Linked DNA regions of Homo sapiens: region 1 is linked to region 2. Evidence: fine-mapped expression QTL. Tissue or cell type: NK cells. Region 2 holds a variant in brackets; the other region holds the start of a gene. All regions are shown on one strand. Distances are from middle to middle.

Region 1 (8,101 bases), 110 kb before region 2:
AAATGTGATTGCCAGCTGGGTGCTCACACCTGTAATCCCAGCACTTTGGGAGGCGGAGACAGGTGGATCACTTGAAGTCAGGAGTTTGAGACCAGCCTGGCCAACATGGTGAAACCTTGTCTCTACTAAAAATACAAAAATTAGCTGGGTGTGTGGGCGCATGCCTATATTCCCAGCTACTTGGAGACTGAGGCAGGAGAATTTCTTGAAACCTTTTTTTTTTTTTTTTTTTGAGGTGGAGTCTCTGTCGCCCAGGCTGGAGTGCAGTGGCGAGATCTCGGCTCATTGCAAGCTCCGCCTCCTGGTTGAACCCATTAAAAAAAAATAAAAATATATTAATATAACTCCCATATGCAGTCATTCAATGAATTTGTATTGGCCTCTAAACTGGGCATGGCTGGATGTAGAATCTATGGATGTGGCTAGATGGAATACACCTGGTTATGGAGGCACCTGCAGGTATTTTGGTGATCTTCTCCAAAGGATCTTTTGCTTTGCTGAGACGCCTGATCTTCCTGTCAATGTGAAGGTAGCTGCTGGAGGCTTGTGAACAGCAGTCAATGGTAGAGAAAAAATGTGGGTAAAGGCCAAGCGTGTGGCTCACATCTATAATCCCAGCACTTTGGGAGGCCGAGGCAGGAGGATCACTTGAGGTCAGGAGTTCAAGACCAGCCTGGCCAACATGGTGAAACCCTGCCTCTACTAAAAATACAAAAATTAGCTGGGTGTGGTGGCATATGCTCATAGTCTCAGCTACTTGGGAGGCTGAGGCAGGACAATTGCCTGAACCTGGGAAATGGAAGTTGCAGTGAGCTGAGATCATGCTACTACACTCTAGCCTGGGTGACAGAGTGAGACTCCATCTCAAAAAAAAAAAAAAAAAAAAAAAAAAAAAAGCAGGTACGTTCCTACAAACTCACCCTCATCAGTTGAAAGAGAAAAAGACTCAAAGCTTGTAACTGCAGTTTTGGACGCATGATCAGGCCATAGCAGGGAATCCCATCTTCCAGCAGATGGTTCTCCAAGATTGTGGTCCACCTGACAAATGAAATCACGTAGGCACTGCCGAGTCCTCAGGGGCCGGTGTGATGAGAATGGCTACAACTCAATCATTATGCAACTTATCTCAAAGCCTGTCATGGTTGCCACCCAGTCTGACCTCTGATATCCTGGAGCCAAGGTCCTCACCCATCATGTGAATTTGCATGTGAGGGAGGGTGAGGAGGAGACACTGAGGCAGGCAAGGCATTCTGCAAGCTTTTGCAGAGTTTTCATGGACACATTCTGATTCCCACTGTGTCCAGGTGGGAGTTCTGTACACATCACAGATGGAAAAAAGAAACTCTCTGTGGATTTGGCAGCACCCTGGATTGGATGTTTGAAGAAAGCTATTGCATCTGCCCCGTATCTTCTGTGAATCGGGTACCTTTATGCTTCTGGGAGGTCAAGAAGAACCCAGAACCCTCCAGTGACTTCCCTTTGGGTCTTGGCATTATGAGAAGATGGTTAACCTCCTTTATAGAACTCTCCTTCACATCCAATCCTTCAGAAAGCCTAATTGATCCCATCTTCTTAACCCAACCCCTCCCCTGGACATCGTTCCTAAGCCCCTTAAAGAAACAGATGGCGGCTGGGCACGGTGGCTCACGCCTGTAATCCCAGCACTTTTGGGAGGCCAAGGCATGTGAATCATGAGGTCAGGAGTTCGAGACCAGCCTGGCCAATATGGTGAAACCCTGTCTCTACTAAAAATACAAAAATCAGCTGGGCATGGTGGTAATCCCAGCTCCACTGGAGGCTGAGGTAGGAGAATTGCTTGAACCCCGGGAGGCAAAGGTTGCAGTGATCCGAGATCGCACCATTGCACTCTAGTCTGGGTGACAAAGCGAGACTCCGTCTCAAAAAAAAAAAAAAAGAAAAGAAAAGAAAAGATATGGATGGCATATCCTTGTACCTCCAGGGCCTGACACACAGTGCTGGCACCACAGCCCCAGTCCCCCGGGGTTGATGGCATGATTCACTCCCTGACCTGGAGACTGGGGAGGCTTGTCAGCTTATAGGTTTCCACAGCAGGCAATGTGGCCGAATTGCTTCCAGAGAAGTAGGGAGGTGAGTATGACCATTACTTGTGTCTAAAAATCCGACGTGACTAACTTACAAACACATAAGTTACCACAAATGATTTAGGGAGGAGGAAAGAAGTGCAGACAGGCAAGCTTTCAGATCGTTTCAGGAAACCAGGAAGCAGGGAGCACAGCGTTGCAGCCAGCAAGGGAAGACGGAAGCTGTGAGTCCTGGCTCTGAGGGCCTCCCATCCAGTTGGGCTGATGGATGAGACAGGTACAGTCTGTGCTGGGCCATCGTGAGGCTTGCAGAGGGTAGTGCCAGGGTCACACAAGGCGTCATGGCCTCAGAATTCTGAGACCTGGTTTTCCATCTGAACTCATCACCCTTAGTGGGAGACCTAGGGTGCGTTTCTCTTCAATCCTGGGTTTCACCTCTCTAAACAAGGGACAATAGTATCTACCTCAGAGGGTTGTGGCAATGACCAAATGTGTCACAGGTGAAAATGTCCAGTAGTTTCTGGCATTTATGACGTGTTCGGTCAATGTTAGTTCACTATTGTTATCCCATTTACTAAGCGAATGCATGTGACACACCATGCGTTTCTGAACCTCGTATGTGAGAGTGCCTGGCATAGAATTGATGTTCATTAAAGGTTTATTTTTTAAATTTTTAGATAAACTTATTTTGAAATAGTTTTAGACTTGAAGAGTTGCAGAAATACTAGCGAGTTTCCCTGTATCCTACATCCAGCTTCCCCTAATTTTTTTTCCCCCAAGATGGAGTCCTGCTCTGTTGCCCAGGCTGGAGTGCAGTGGCATGATCTCGGTTCACTGCAAACTCCGTCTCCTGGATTCAAGTGATTCTTGTGCCTCAGCCTCCTGAGTAGCTGGGATTACAGGCGCACACCACCATGCCCAACTAATTTCTGTATTTTTAGTAGAGACGGGGGTTTCACCATGCTGGCCAGGCTGGTCTTGAACTCCTAACCTCAGGTGGTCTGTCTGCCTCAGCCTCCCAAAGTGCTGGGATTACAGGTGTGAGCCACTGCACAGGGCCCAGCTTCCCCTAAAAATGTTAACGTCTTACCTAACCATAGTAAGAGGATCAGAACCAGGAAATTGCAGATCTTATGTGAATTTTGCCCGCTCTCCTGCTACTGTCCTTTCCTGTTCCATGTTCCCAACCAGCATCCCATGTTCCATTTAGTTGTTGTATCTATCCCCTTAGGGACGATTCCTAGATTGTGACAGTTTCTCAGTCTTTGTCTTTCAAGACCCAAAGTGTCCAAGGACACTTTTGATGGGTACTGGTTAATCACTTTGTAGAACAGGTCTCAATCTGGGTTTGTCTGGTGTTTTCTTGCGATTGGATTGAGATTACACACTTCTGCAGGAATACCACCACAATATGTTGCTTTTAGTTTTTTCCTCCTTTATTGTGGTAAAATACACTCAACATAACATTTACCATTTAAACCACTTTATTTTATTTTATTATTATTTTTTGAGATGGAGTTTCACTCTTGTTGCCCAGGCTGGAGTGTAATGGTGCGAACTCAGCTCACCACAACCTCCGCCTCCCGGGTTCAAGCAATTCTCCTGCCTCGGCCTCTCGAGTAGCTGGGATTACAGGCATGTGCCACCACGTCCGGCTAATTTTTGTATTTTTAGTAGAGATGGGGTTTCTCCGTGTTGGTCAGGCTGGTCTCGAACTCCCGACCTCAGGTGATCCGCCCACCTCGGCCTCCCAAAGTGCTGGGATTACAGGCGTGAGCCACCGCTCCCGGCCTAAACCACTTTAAAGTGTATGATTCAAGGGCAGTATGTAGATTCATCCTGTTGGATCATTTCTAGACTTTTTCATCATCCTAAAACGAAACCCCAAGCTGCTTATCTTCCTCCCCTAGCACCTGGCAACCTCCAATCTGTGTCGCCTCTACGGATTTGCCAATTCGAGACATTTCATCTGGATGGAATCATACGCTATGTGGCCTTTTTTGTTTGGCTTCTTTCACTAGCATAACGTTTCCCGGGTTCCTCCACACTGCAGCATGCATCGGTGCTCCATTCCTTTTTGTAGCCGAATAATATTCCATTGCATGGACAGATCACATTTTACTTTTATTTTCTAATTCAACAGTGAGACCTGGTGTGGGCCCCGGCGCTGGGCCTGGGAGGCGAGGGAGGGGATGGAAGAGAGCCCCGTGACTGGCAGGAGGCACTGTGGAGTGTGGGGAGAAGGGGTCGGGATCTGCATGCTAGAGAGAATAGGATTTTATTTACACGTGGCAATGTTTATGGAGGCCAATGCACAACTGCCATTATGGGACGCGGACTCCTTTGAAAGTCTCATTTGTGTAAAAGGAAAAGCAGTAGTTCATGAGGAGGGGGAGAAGGGCTCAAGGACAGCAAGGTAAACTACCCCTGGGGCGGGGGAACGTGGTCGTCGGTGGGCCCAGCTTTGGAGGCTAGGCCCGTGAAGGTCGCCCCGTGAGCAGGTCCAGGGCAGGCCGAGTGCCCCGGGGCCCGCATTCATTGCTTACAGAGCAAGGGGAGCCTCCCGGGAGGGAAATCCAACGGTTGGAAACTTCGATTTATCCCAAAGGCGTGCCGAGTGGGAAGGCAACATTTTGATTTCCCAAACGTTGCGGCCAGCGGCTTCTTCCACGGCAGGCGCCTTCAGGTCTCTCCGCAGGGTCGGGACCCCGGGCGGCGCGCGGCCTCTGGGACGCCGAGGGAGGGCGGGCCCACAGCGCCCGGAGCGCGGACAGCGGCCACAGCCCGCCGCCTAGAAGCGGCGCCGCCCGGGGCGGGGGGCGGAGCCGAGCGCGCGCCCCGCCCCGCCCCGCCCCGCCCCGCAGCCCCAGCCCAGCGCGCGCACCAAGGCGGGGCGGCGCGCGGCCCGTGCGCGTGTCCGGGGCCAGGAGGCGGTGGCGGCGAGCGCGGGCCGCGCGTGCGCGCTGCGGCTGGGCGAGGGGCGGCGCGGGCGCGCGTCTGTCAGTGACAGCGGGCGGGGCAGGGGCCGGAGATGGTGGCGGCGGCAGCTCTTCCGACATGAGGCAGCGGCCGCGGGGGACACGGCGGCGGGCGCGGCGGCGGCCGCATCTCTAGCTCGGGGAGGCGGCCCCCGGCGTGGGCGCGGGCGGGCGGGCGTCCCGGCCGGCGTCGCGGGAGCCCGGCTCTGCGGCAGCGTCTGCACCGCCGCCCGGCGAGGGGCCCGCGTCCGTGGTTCCACGCGCTCGGTCCCGGGACAGCTGCGGCCGCGGCGGGAGCGGCGGCGCACTCGGGGGGAAGCAGGCCCCACTAGACGGGCCGCGCCGACGGGCTCCGCGCACTCGCAGCCCGGGGCGCCCCCACCCCCAGCGCCCGCCGCCGCGGGCAGGGCCGGCCCGGAGCGCGGGGGGCGGCCGGGGAGCGCGAGCCGGGGGCGCCCGCCGAAGCTCGCTGCTCCGGGTCGGGGTCCGGGCCCGGGGCCGGCCGCGCGCCGCCTTTGACGCATCGGAGCGCGGCTCCTGCAGGATGGAGGGCTCCGCGCCGCCAGCGGAGTTGTTTGTGCGCAGGCGGCTCGCGGGGCTGGGAGCGCTCAAGGTCTGAACTTCCCTCCGGAGCCGCAGCTGGAGGAGGCGAGCGCGCGAGGAGGAGAAGCCGCGCGGCGCGGAGGCCACCCTCGGGGCGAGAGGCGCGGAAGGCGAGCGAGCAAAGCGGTCCCGGAGCCACGGCGGCCACGCGGCGGGGACCCCCGGGCGTTCTAGGTCCGTCCCGAGCGGTTCTCGTGCGCCTCGAAGGTGGGGGCGGTGGGGGCGGTGGGAGCACCGCTGAGCCGGGAACCACAGGAACAGATGGTGCCTGTCCAGGTCGCGTGCTGGAGCCGCCCCTTAGGACAGGAGCAGGTCCCGGGCCTCTAGGCGTGCATGCCTAGGTGGGAGCGCCGCTAACTCTCCCCGTTTTGCTGGCAGGTACTGGTGACCCCGGCCGGGGCAGGCCCCGGGACTCGACAACATGGCTTCCCCACCCCACCAGCAGCTGCTGCATCACCACAGCACCGAGGTGAGCTGCGACTCCAGCGGGGACAGCAACAGCGTGCGCGTCAAGATCAACCCCAAGCAGCTGTCCTCCAACAGCCACCCCAAGCACTGCAAATACAGCATCTCCTCTAGCTGCAGCAGCTCTGGGGACTCCGGGGGCGTCCCCCGGCGAGTGGGCGGCGGAGGCCGGCTGCGCAGGCAGAAGAAGCTGCCCCAGCTGTTCGAGAGGGCCTCCAGCCGCTGGTGGGACCCCAAGTTCGACTCGGTGAACCTGGAGGAGGCCTGCCTGGAGCGCTGCTTCCCGCAGACCCAGCGCCGGTTCCGGTATGCGCTCTTCTACATCGGCTTCGCCTGCCTTCTGTGGAGCATCTATTTTGCGGTCCACATGAGATCCAGACTGATCGTCATGGTCGCCCCCGCGCTGTGCTTCCTCCTGGTGTGTGTGGGCTTCTTTCTGTTTACCTTCACCAAGCTGTACGCCCGGCATTACGCGTGGACCTCGCTGGCTCTCACCCTGCTGGTGTTCGCCCTGACCCTGGCTGCGCAGTTCCAGGTCTTGACGCCTGTCTCAGGACGCGGCGACAGCTCCAACCTTACGGCCACAGCCCGGCCCACAGATACTTGCTTATCTCAAGTGGGGAGCTTCTCCATGTGCATCGAAGTGCTCTTTTTGCTCTATACCGTCATGCACTTACCTTTGTACCTGAGTTTGTGTCTGGGGGTGGCCTACTCTGTCCTTTTCGAGACCTTTGGCTACCATTTCCGGGATGAAGCCTGCTTCCCCTCGCCCGGAGCCGGGGCCCTGCACTGGGAGCTGCTGAGCAGGGGGCTGCTCCACGGCTGCATCCACGCCATCGGGGTCCACCTGTTCGTCATGTCCCAGGTGAGGTCCAGGAGCACCTTCCTCAAGGTGGGGCAATCCATTATGCACGGGAAGGACCTGGAAGTGGAAAAAGCCCTCAAAGAGAGGATGATTCATTCCGTGATGCCAAGAATCATAGCCGATGACTTAATGAAGCAGGGAGATGAGGAGAGTGAGAATTCTGTCAAGAGGCATGCCACCTCGAGCCCCAAGAACAGGAAGAAAAAGTCTTCCATCCAAAAAGCTCCTATAGCCTTCCGCCCTTTTAAGATGCAGCAGATCGAAGAAGTCAGTATTTTATTTGCAGATATCGTGGGCTTCACCAAGATGAGTGCCAACAAGTCTGCCCACGCCCTGGTGGGTCTCCTGAACGATCTGTTCGGTCGCTTCGACCGCCTGTGTGAGGAGACCAAGTGTGAGAAAATCAGCACCCTGGGAGACTGTTACTACTGCGTGGCGGGCTGTCCCGAGCCCCGGGCCGACCATGCCTACTGCTGCATCGAGATGGGCCTGGGCATGATCAAGGCCATCGAGCAGTTCTGCCAGGAGAAGAAGGAGATGGTGAACATGAGAGTCGGGGTGCACACGGGCACCGTCCTTTGCGGCATCCTGGGCATGAGGAGGTTTAAATTTGACGTGTGGTCCAACGATGTGAACCTGGCCAATCTCATGGAGCAGCTGGGAGTGGCCGGCAAAGTTCACATTTCTGAGGCCACCGCAAAATACTTAGATGACCGGTACGAAATGGAAGATGGGAAAGTTATTGAACGGCTGGGCCAGAGCGTGGTTGCTGACCAGTTGAAAGGTATGTGCACTGCTTTACCTCGGCATCCCCCCTCCCTGATCCTGATTGTATTAAATTAAAAAAAAAAGCTTCCAGCCTCAGTGTCTGCAGACAGCTCAGGTATCTCAGAATGCCTTACCATGGGGGGATCTCAGGGTCAGTGTGACTTTTCTTTCAGCGGGTCAAATATCACAGATCTGTTCACACTGCAGAAAGGGACGCTGTGCAGAGATGACCTAGACGCGACCTTTAGAAGGAAGGAGAACTTTGAACGTGCATAACCACTGGTTGGCTGAAATGTGGGGGCACGTCCGGTGAATGTAAGGGTATGGAGCCCTTCAGCATTCAGCACTGTTTAGCACTT
Region 2 (8,101 bases):
AAAGAGACTGGGACAAATGAGGCCAGAAATGGGCCTCGCCCATCACTCTTTTCCAAAATGGGCTTTGTCAGTCACTCTTCCTATACTTGGGTCACCAAACCTGATCACCACTATGTGCAAAGTGCAGTTTTAGTTTTCAAAGAAGTGACACTATACTTAAGAATACTTAAGAACGTTAACTGCGTTAACCTCCACGCACACAGCCATAGACAAATTCCCCCGTCAGACAGGAGCCCATTAGGAAATGCCCACCCCTCTCTGTAGCCTTTGTAAAATTAAGCTGATAAAAGACATCGCTGTTGTTGAGGTTTAAAATCAATGGATAACCAGGAAAGAATATAAGAAATCATATTAATTATTCTCCTGTTTACACTACACTTAAATCATTTAGCTGTCTTTTTTTTTTTTTTGGACCTTCTGCTGCAAAAGAGCCATTCTAATGAACTTGGACCCCAGGGTCCATGTGTGTGGTTATTCATTAAATCATGTCGCCTGCAGAGTCTCCTGACTTAAGACTTTCGCTGGGCTTGAACTCAGTAACCTGTCCTGATGTATTTCTCAGGCGTTTGTGATTAGGCAGCTGGGCTCTGCCTTACCTGTCAGGGTGATAACCCTTCTGGTTCTGACAAAAGGTTTCACTTTAAATTTAGCTTTCCATATTGAAGCATAAATAAAAAGATAATTTACTTCCCGATTTTGCTCGTTGTGGACACGGAGGTGTGTTTGACCTTCGTAAAGCTAGTAGGATCATGTTATCACTATGGGTTGGTCATTCAGCGCTTCCTAAAGAAAAACTCAAGTCAGAAACAAATCAGGAGCAATTATTGATTTAACAGTTTTGCAAATGCTTTTGTATGTAGAAGGTGCATGAAAAAGATTCCAGTGATACGCAGATCAAACACTGCGTCGATAATCACAGCTAATGTCGAGTGCTTGCTGCGTGCGTGTTGATCATTTAAGCCTCACATGCGAGCTGTGTGGTAAGCCCTCCTCCTGCCCTCGCCTTAGAGATGAGGAAACTGAGAGGCAGCGATGAAGCAGCTCACTAGCCCTGCTCCTGTCCTCCCCTTAGAGATGAGGAAACTGAGAGGCAGCGATGAAACAGCTCACTAGCCCTGCTCCTGTCCTCCCCTTAGAGATGAGGAAACTGAGAGGCAGCGATGAAGCAGCTCACTAGCTCTGCTCCTGCCCTCCCCTTAGAGATGAGGAAACTGAGAGGCAGAGATGAAGCAGCTCACTTAGATCACGGGATTAGGGGGCGGACCTGGACCCGACTCCGAGGCCCCCTCCAGCAGCCAGGCCCTCGCCCATCACGCTTGGTTGCTTGTAATGGGAGCCTTGCCTCTCGCCAGCAGTTTGTGGGGAGTAGGTTTCCCGTTTCCACTGTTATTTCCTGACTCCCGTGCCTCCCAACTTCCCACCCGCTGTGGCTGGCATTTCCACCGGCTCCCTGGCTTGTCCTACGCCTCATGCCTCCTATGTGGCTCTTCTTTCTCCTCCCGCCCCCCTGCTGCCCGTGGCCCCAGAATGGAGGCTTCCCAGGATGGCCCACACAGTGCCCTGCACAGGTGCTGTGGCTCAGCCCTGGCCATTCCCTCCACACGTTCTCTGCTCCAGCCACACTGAGCTCCAAGCCATCCTTTAGCTATGCCTGCTGCAGGCCACCTCTGTAGAGGGCCTTTCATGACCTGTTCTAGTAACCCCCCTGCCTGGTGTCAGCCACCCCCGCCCCTGGCCTGGTTTGCTATTGCCGGGCTGACCTCGCCCCGTCTTTCAGTTCTCCGTGTGGAGGGTGCTGATCCGTCCGTCTCCATCTGCTTGTGAAGCAATAACAGAACAGCATAGGCTGGGTAATCTATACAGCACGGAAATTTCTGTCCTCATGCTTCAGGAGGCTGGGAAGTCCAAGATCAAGGCACCAGCAGGTTCAGGTGTCTGGGGAGGGCTGCATCTTCTGGAAGGGAGAAGGAAACTGGAGGGCAAGCGAGAGAGCCCCTTACAGCAAGCCCCTTTATGCAGGCGCCTGATCCCATCGCAGGGGAGGAGCCCTCCTGGCCTCGTCACCTCTTAAAGCCCTGCTTCCTTAAGACTCTCACTCCACAACGCCTGAACTTTGGAGGGGACACGTTCGAGCCACAGCCCCTTCCTTCCTGAGGCTTCTCAAGATGCCCCCTCCTGTGCTTCCTGGAGCACCCGTCCTTCCTTGTCCTGGGACTTGGCACGCCTGACCATAGTCATACCTGCTTGTCCTCTTGGCCCCTCTTCAGGTAATGGGCTCCACACAGGTCACGATCTCGGCCAAAATAGTCACACATCGTCCCTGCACCCATCAGTGTGTAGTAAACAGGAAGTGCTTAATAAATGTTTGATGAATTAAGAGTGACTCAGTAATCCCAGTACAAAAAAGCAACAGCAGACGTTGGAGATGTGCTTGAGGCACGTGCCCAGCTTGTGAGCAGAGGCCGCCGCTGCCACTCCGTGCTCCCCGTGGACTGCCGTGCTGAGCGCTGTGAATGTGCTGGCTGTCCCGTCGTGCTCCAGCTCTTCAGGCCTCCCTGCTCAGCCTCTCTCAGCTTCAGTTGCCACGCACTTCTAGGAGAGGCCATCTTGACTTTCTCTTGCAGTCCCGGAGCCACACAGGGAGCAGGTGCGCAGTCACCTGGGTGAGGGCCCCTTCCTGGGTTTCAGAGGCAGCCCAGTTCATGCTCCCAGGGCAGCCCTTGTGCATGGGGAGCCGTAGCCTCAGGCAGGGGCACCCTGAGCCAACAGCACCTTGCAGGGCCAGCCACAGACATAATGGAAAACCTCATCCTTCAGCCGCAACTTTTCCTACCTCCCATCAAAAAAATGTCCCTCCTCTCTCAGTATGTGGGGACTGCGGTCTCCAGAGTGGCCATCCACAGTCACACTGGCTGTCAGTGGCTCCTGTCACCACCCTGCCACCTGGTGACTTGTGGGCCACACTCAGGAGTCATGGGAAGGAGACCCTTAGAGCAGCCCCAGGACAGGCCTCCTTGCGTGTACTTCTTTGATGAAGGCGGGTATAAGCCCTGGCAGCTCATTGTCCTCTCTTGAGTCCACATAGGTTGCATTTTTTAACTCTGGCAAAGTGAAGTTACAAAGTCAGTCTGGTGTCGCCTGGGACAGGTCCGAGAAATTAGTATAAAGATGGCTTCACTCCTGCGTCGTATTCCAGTTCACGTTTCCATTTCAGTGTATACATGTTACAGTCGTGATTGATCCTGTGCATAAATTGGGATGTGGGTTTTTGTTGGAGAAAAAAATGCACAAAAGTTCAGGAGCTAAGTAAGAGTGAAAGATTTTCATTGGACCAGGTGTGGTGGCTCACACCTGCAATCCCAGCACTTTGGGAGGCCAAGATGGGCGGATCACTTGAGTCTAGGAGTTCGAGACCAGCCTGGCCAACACAGTGAGACCCCCATCTCA[A/G]AAAAGAAAGAAAGAAATAGTTGGACATAGTGGCGGACGTTTGTAGTCCCAGCTACTCAGGAGGCTGAGGCTATAGGAGGTGGGGGCTGTAGGGAGCCATGGTTGCACCACTGCGCTCCAGCCTGGGCAACAGAGCAAGACCCTATCTCTAAAGGAAAAACAAAACAAAACAAAACAAAACAAAACATGAAGAGTTTCTTGGGGCCAGTTGGCATCTAAAAATATCTAAGTCTTTTGATTCTCAGCTATGACCTGGCTACGTTCTAGGCTGTCTTTACGTGTTTCTAGGACTCTTGGCAAATTCTCAGAACAGTTGACTTAAAAAGATTAGCCACGTAGTATTTTTACAAGGAGAGAGGGAGGTGAAGTGATGAGATGGGGCCATACTTATAAAATGATTCGGGATTATTGATGAAGTAGTCCCTAGGTTTCTGATTAATTAATTTTAAAGCGCTGACCAAATATGTACCCAGCGTAAGAAGCCAGAGTCGATCAGTGTTGTAGACACGTCGCCTCTCGATGGCATCTTTCCATGCCACACCCTTCACGACCTGAAGCTGGAGCTTAAACCCTTCAAGAAGGGTCCCTGCGACCGGGTGCAGTGGCTCACACCTGTCATCTTTGGGAGGCCAAGGTGGGCAGATCACTAGGAGTTCTAGGCCAGTCTGGCCGACATGGAGAAACCCTGTCTCTACTAAAAATACAAAAATTAGCCAGGCGTGGTGGTGGACACCTGCCTGCTCACAGGCTGAGTCAGGAGAATTGCTTGAACCCAGGAGGTGGAGGCTGCAGTGAGCTGAGATCGCACCATTGCACTCCATCCTGGGTGAGAGAGTGAGACTCCATCTCAATTAAAAAAAAAAAAAAGAAGGGACCCTGCTTTGTTCATGATTTTATTCTCGGTGTGTGGCATACACTAGGCCTGAAATAAATGTTATTTAAATGTTAAATTACATTGTCCCTCCTTCCGATACATTTGCCATCTGGTTAAATTCCAGTGAAGTCAAAGGATGGATTTCTTTAAATAAAGTTTGCTTCTTTTTCAAAAATTCCTTGGGCTCTTTCTAGAAAAGCTGCTCCTTTGCCATCTTCCCAGCAGATTCCCGGGGCAGGATCCACCCACCTGTTCACAGCTCCTTCCAGCGCAGTGTGGGTCCGGCTGTTAGCTCAGCCTCAAAGGAGAATTGTAAAGATACAGGTCAAGTGTCCTTTTGACCACCTTTTTTTTTTTTTTCTATATGCGGGATTTTGTGAGACAATAAAATGCATGTGGACCTCAGCTTAACAAAAGCTGAATGTTCCTGGGGTGAGTGTTTGAATCCAACAGGAAATAGATGCTCAACAGCTCTGAGTCTGGGGAGGTTTTAATGGCCTCTTGGTCCCTGGTAGGGTCTTGTTTTTCGGGGTAGTTTTGCAGCCTCTGACACAGGTAAGATGGTCAGTACCGGAAGCTGCCATGACGTCTAGACTGACCGTTAGGAAGGTACTCACTGGACTGGTATTCACAGATGGAAATAAACCAAAGCAGTGTCTAGGGTCAACCAATCTGCTTTGCTGCCTTCACGGGGAGGTCCTGGGACCCTTTCATGGAGGAACTTTTTAATGCTTATTTTAACCCTGAAGGTAAAACATGAAACATGCAGCCATTACTCCAAGAAAACGTAACGTGGGTGAGTGGTGTGTCTCGGGGGCCCACGGTCTCCCTGAGGCCGCATCTCTCTGGAGAGATCGTGGACGTCCGTCGTAAACTATGACCTATTCACATTTTCACTTTACTCTCAACTTTCCAGGAGTGAGTCCTCTCCAGAGAGCAAGACGGAGCTGCGTTTCAACAGACGGTGCTTTCAATCTGTGCTGACTGTAACTTTTATCCATCATAGGTTTGAAGACATACCTGATATCGGGTCAGAGAGCCAAGGAGTCTCGCTGCAGCTGTGCAGAGGCCTTGCTTTCTGGCTTTGAGGTCATTGACGGCTCACAGGTGTCCTCAGGCCCTAGGGGACAGGGGACAGCGTCATCAGGGAATGTCAGTGACTTGGCGCAGACTGTCAAAACCTTTGATAACCTTAAGGTTAGTTTTTTTGTTTTTTTTTTCCTACTTCTAAAACTTTCTATTAATTCTGCAGTAGAGCACGTGAAATAATAAGCAGCCTCCAGGTCTGAGGCAAACAACTTGGAATGACCTTCGATTTGGTTTTCACGATTTTAATATTTAGTCTAAAGTTAGTAGCATTCTGCATTTTTAACATCCTTGCTTTTTGACATATGACGCACCTCCATTGCCTTTCCATTGCACAAGGATGCTTCTCATTTGAATTATTAGTTATTTTCTCTTCCTGGGACCTGTGGTGCCTTTTGGGATTTCTAGAAGCTGGTGATAAATGACAGTAAAGGTGGCTTTCCTTGGCACCTTGGGTGGAGAGCTAGTTGATAATCTGATTTCAGAGACCACTTTCTCAAATACTTCTACGTCTCTTGAAATCCACTATTTTATGATTACTTGAAATGATGTTGGTGTGGGTGAATCCTAGGACACAGCTCACTGAGAGGACAGGCTGCCGAGAACATTGTAGTATTTCATTATTGGAACCGGGATCTCCTGGTAGCTGCCTAGAAGTGCCCGTTTCTGGACTGACCTGTCATCATAAACTACCAGGGAATTGGCGCGGTCGACCTTGGGTGTGTGAAATCATTTCAGTTTATGAGCTGTTCCTTTGCTTTCACATTTGATTTAGTTTCCCCACTGGTACCTTCTGTTTATTTTTATAGTTTAAACATCTACTGTCTCCATTCTTAAAATGAGACAGAGAATCAAAACAGCTCTCCTATGCTGCTTTGTGTTCTCAGATAACACAGTGGGGTATGTGTGAGGATGGCGGCCAGTGGTTACAGCTTCACCCAATACGTCCCTGCCTCTCCACATTCATTCACAGGTTTGAAAGCCGCTATTGGTATTTACGAGGAACAGTCTTCATTATGTGGCAGTCAGCTGGGGTATGCAGATTACTTACTGGGTCAGAATACATAGTGCCTGTCGCCCAGTTACACGTAATGATTGCACTCGGGTTCTGTCAACTCCGCTCGTGGATCGCGGTCGTTGGGTGCTTTGTTAGTGTAATGCAGGGCTTCTCACCTTGGCACCGCTGGCATTTTGGACCAGGTAGTCATGTGTTGTGGGGCTGTCCTGTGCACTGTCAGATGGCTGGCAGCATCCCTAGCCGCCACCTGCCAGATGGCAGCATACCCACCCGTACCCTACTCCCCAGCTGTGCCAACCAAAAATGTCTCCAGACATGGCCCAGTGTCCCCTGGGGGTGCAGAGTCACCCCTGGGTGAAAACCACCGGGACAGTGGTGTTGGACCCTCTCTTCCCTGTACTCTTGGCACATGTGTAAAGCTCATGTATCTGAGATTCCCTGGATGCCTGCAAACTTTAGAGACAGCCGCCTTGCCTGGGCTGACGTTGTGCAGGAGTCAGAAAATGGAGCTCTGGGCTCCTAGACAGCGGACCCGGGCAGGGAGGGGCTGGCGTGGGGTGGAATCGGGAATGGTTTTGCTATTTGGGGAAGAATTGTTTCCTCCAGCCTGCAAACTGAGCTGTATTTAAGTCGTGAAAGACAGCCCCGAGCCAAAAATATATAATTCGTTGTGTTTGCCATTTTAGCTTCCACATATGTGTGTTTCTGTCCGTTAGGGGATGCGGTCGCAGAGTTCACCATATCACATGCTCACGGGTTTAGTGACCACGGTTTTAGCAATGGCGATTCTACACTACATTGCACTCTAGTCATATATATTTGTTTTGGTCGGAATGAGCAAAAACCATTTAGCGTATCTTCTTGGCATGTGGAGATTTTCCAAATATTGTTGAAAGTTTCTGAGAATCTTGTGATCTATCAAGTTGACAGAAGGCCGGGCATGGTGGCTCACGCCTGTAATCCTGGTGCTGTGGGCGGCCGAGGTGGGAGGGATGCCTGAGGCTAGGATTTCCAGACCAGCCTGGTCATCGTAGCAAGACATCATCTCTACAAAAAAATTTTAAAAATTAACTGGGCTTGGTGGCCTGTGCCTGCGGTCCCAGCTACTTGGGAGGCTGAGCCAAGAGGATCACTTGAGCCCAGGAATTTAGGCTGCATGAGCTATGATTTTGCCACTGCACTCCAGCTTAGGCCACAGAGTGAGACCTTGTCCTGTCTCCAAAAAAAGGGAGGAGGGTGCTCAGTGGTAAAGTAAATTCGGGAAGCTTGGGATATTCAACACAGAAAGGGTTTCTTTACTGCAGGACTTCTCGGAGCCTTCACTAGGCTAGTAGACAGTAGCTAGGCCTTCAGAGGAGGACGCGGTATATACAGCATTCTCAGGCCTCTTTGAGCACAATTGTTTTTTTTCAAGCTGCACCTTGCAGGGCTAATGTGGTCACACCTTTTGGGGGAATGCTCATGTAGTAAAAGGAGTTTCATGCCAAGGACCAATACATTAGAGAAAAGGTGTTCAGGAAACGTTCCCTGAAGGAGCATGCGTAGATTTTCACGTGTGTCCTGTTCCTGCTGCTGCTCACTTGAGATACTCATGGCTTCTCTTTCCCCTGAACTCCTGTCTGCATTCACCGTTCAGCTCCACCACGCCTTCCCGTGCCTCCGCAGCTGATAACGCT

What was found. PIP is the estimated chance that this variant, and not a neighbour inherited with it, causes the effect.
Region 1: it holds the start of ADCY9, and the variant in region 2 is fine-mapped to the expression of ADCY9 in NK cells (Gilchrist 2021, PIP 0.93).

Annotation. Positions count from the first base shown.
Region 1 is chr16:4,113,407-4,121,507 of GRCh38, reverse strand. It overlaps ADCY9 (adenylate cyclase 9), which reads left to right and starts at 5,066. Exons shown (of 11, transcript NM_001116.4): 1 at 5,066-5,818; 2 at 6,023-7,758. The coding sequence starts at 6,066. RefSeq lists silencers at 4,859-4,928, 7,922-8,101.
Region 2 is chr16:4,004,785-4,012,885 of GRCh38, reverse strand. It overlaps ADCY9 (adenylate cyclase 9), which reads left to right. Exons shown (of 11, transcript NM_001116.4): 3 at 5,328-5,518. Among named protein-coding and RNA genes, the nearest start is that of TRIDDENT, 58 kb to the right of the region's middle. RefSeq lists enhancers at 498-1,142, 1,143-1,788. The variant A/G (reference allele first, on the strand shown) is at 3,448.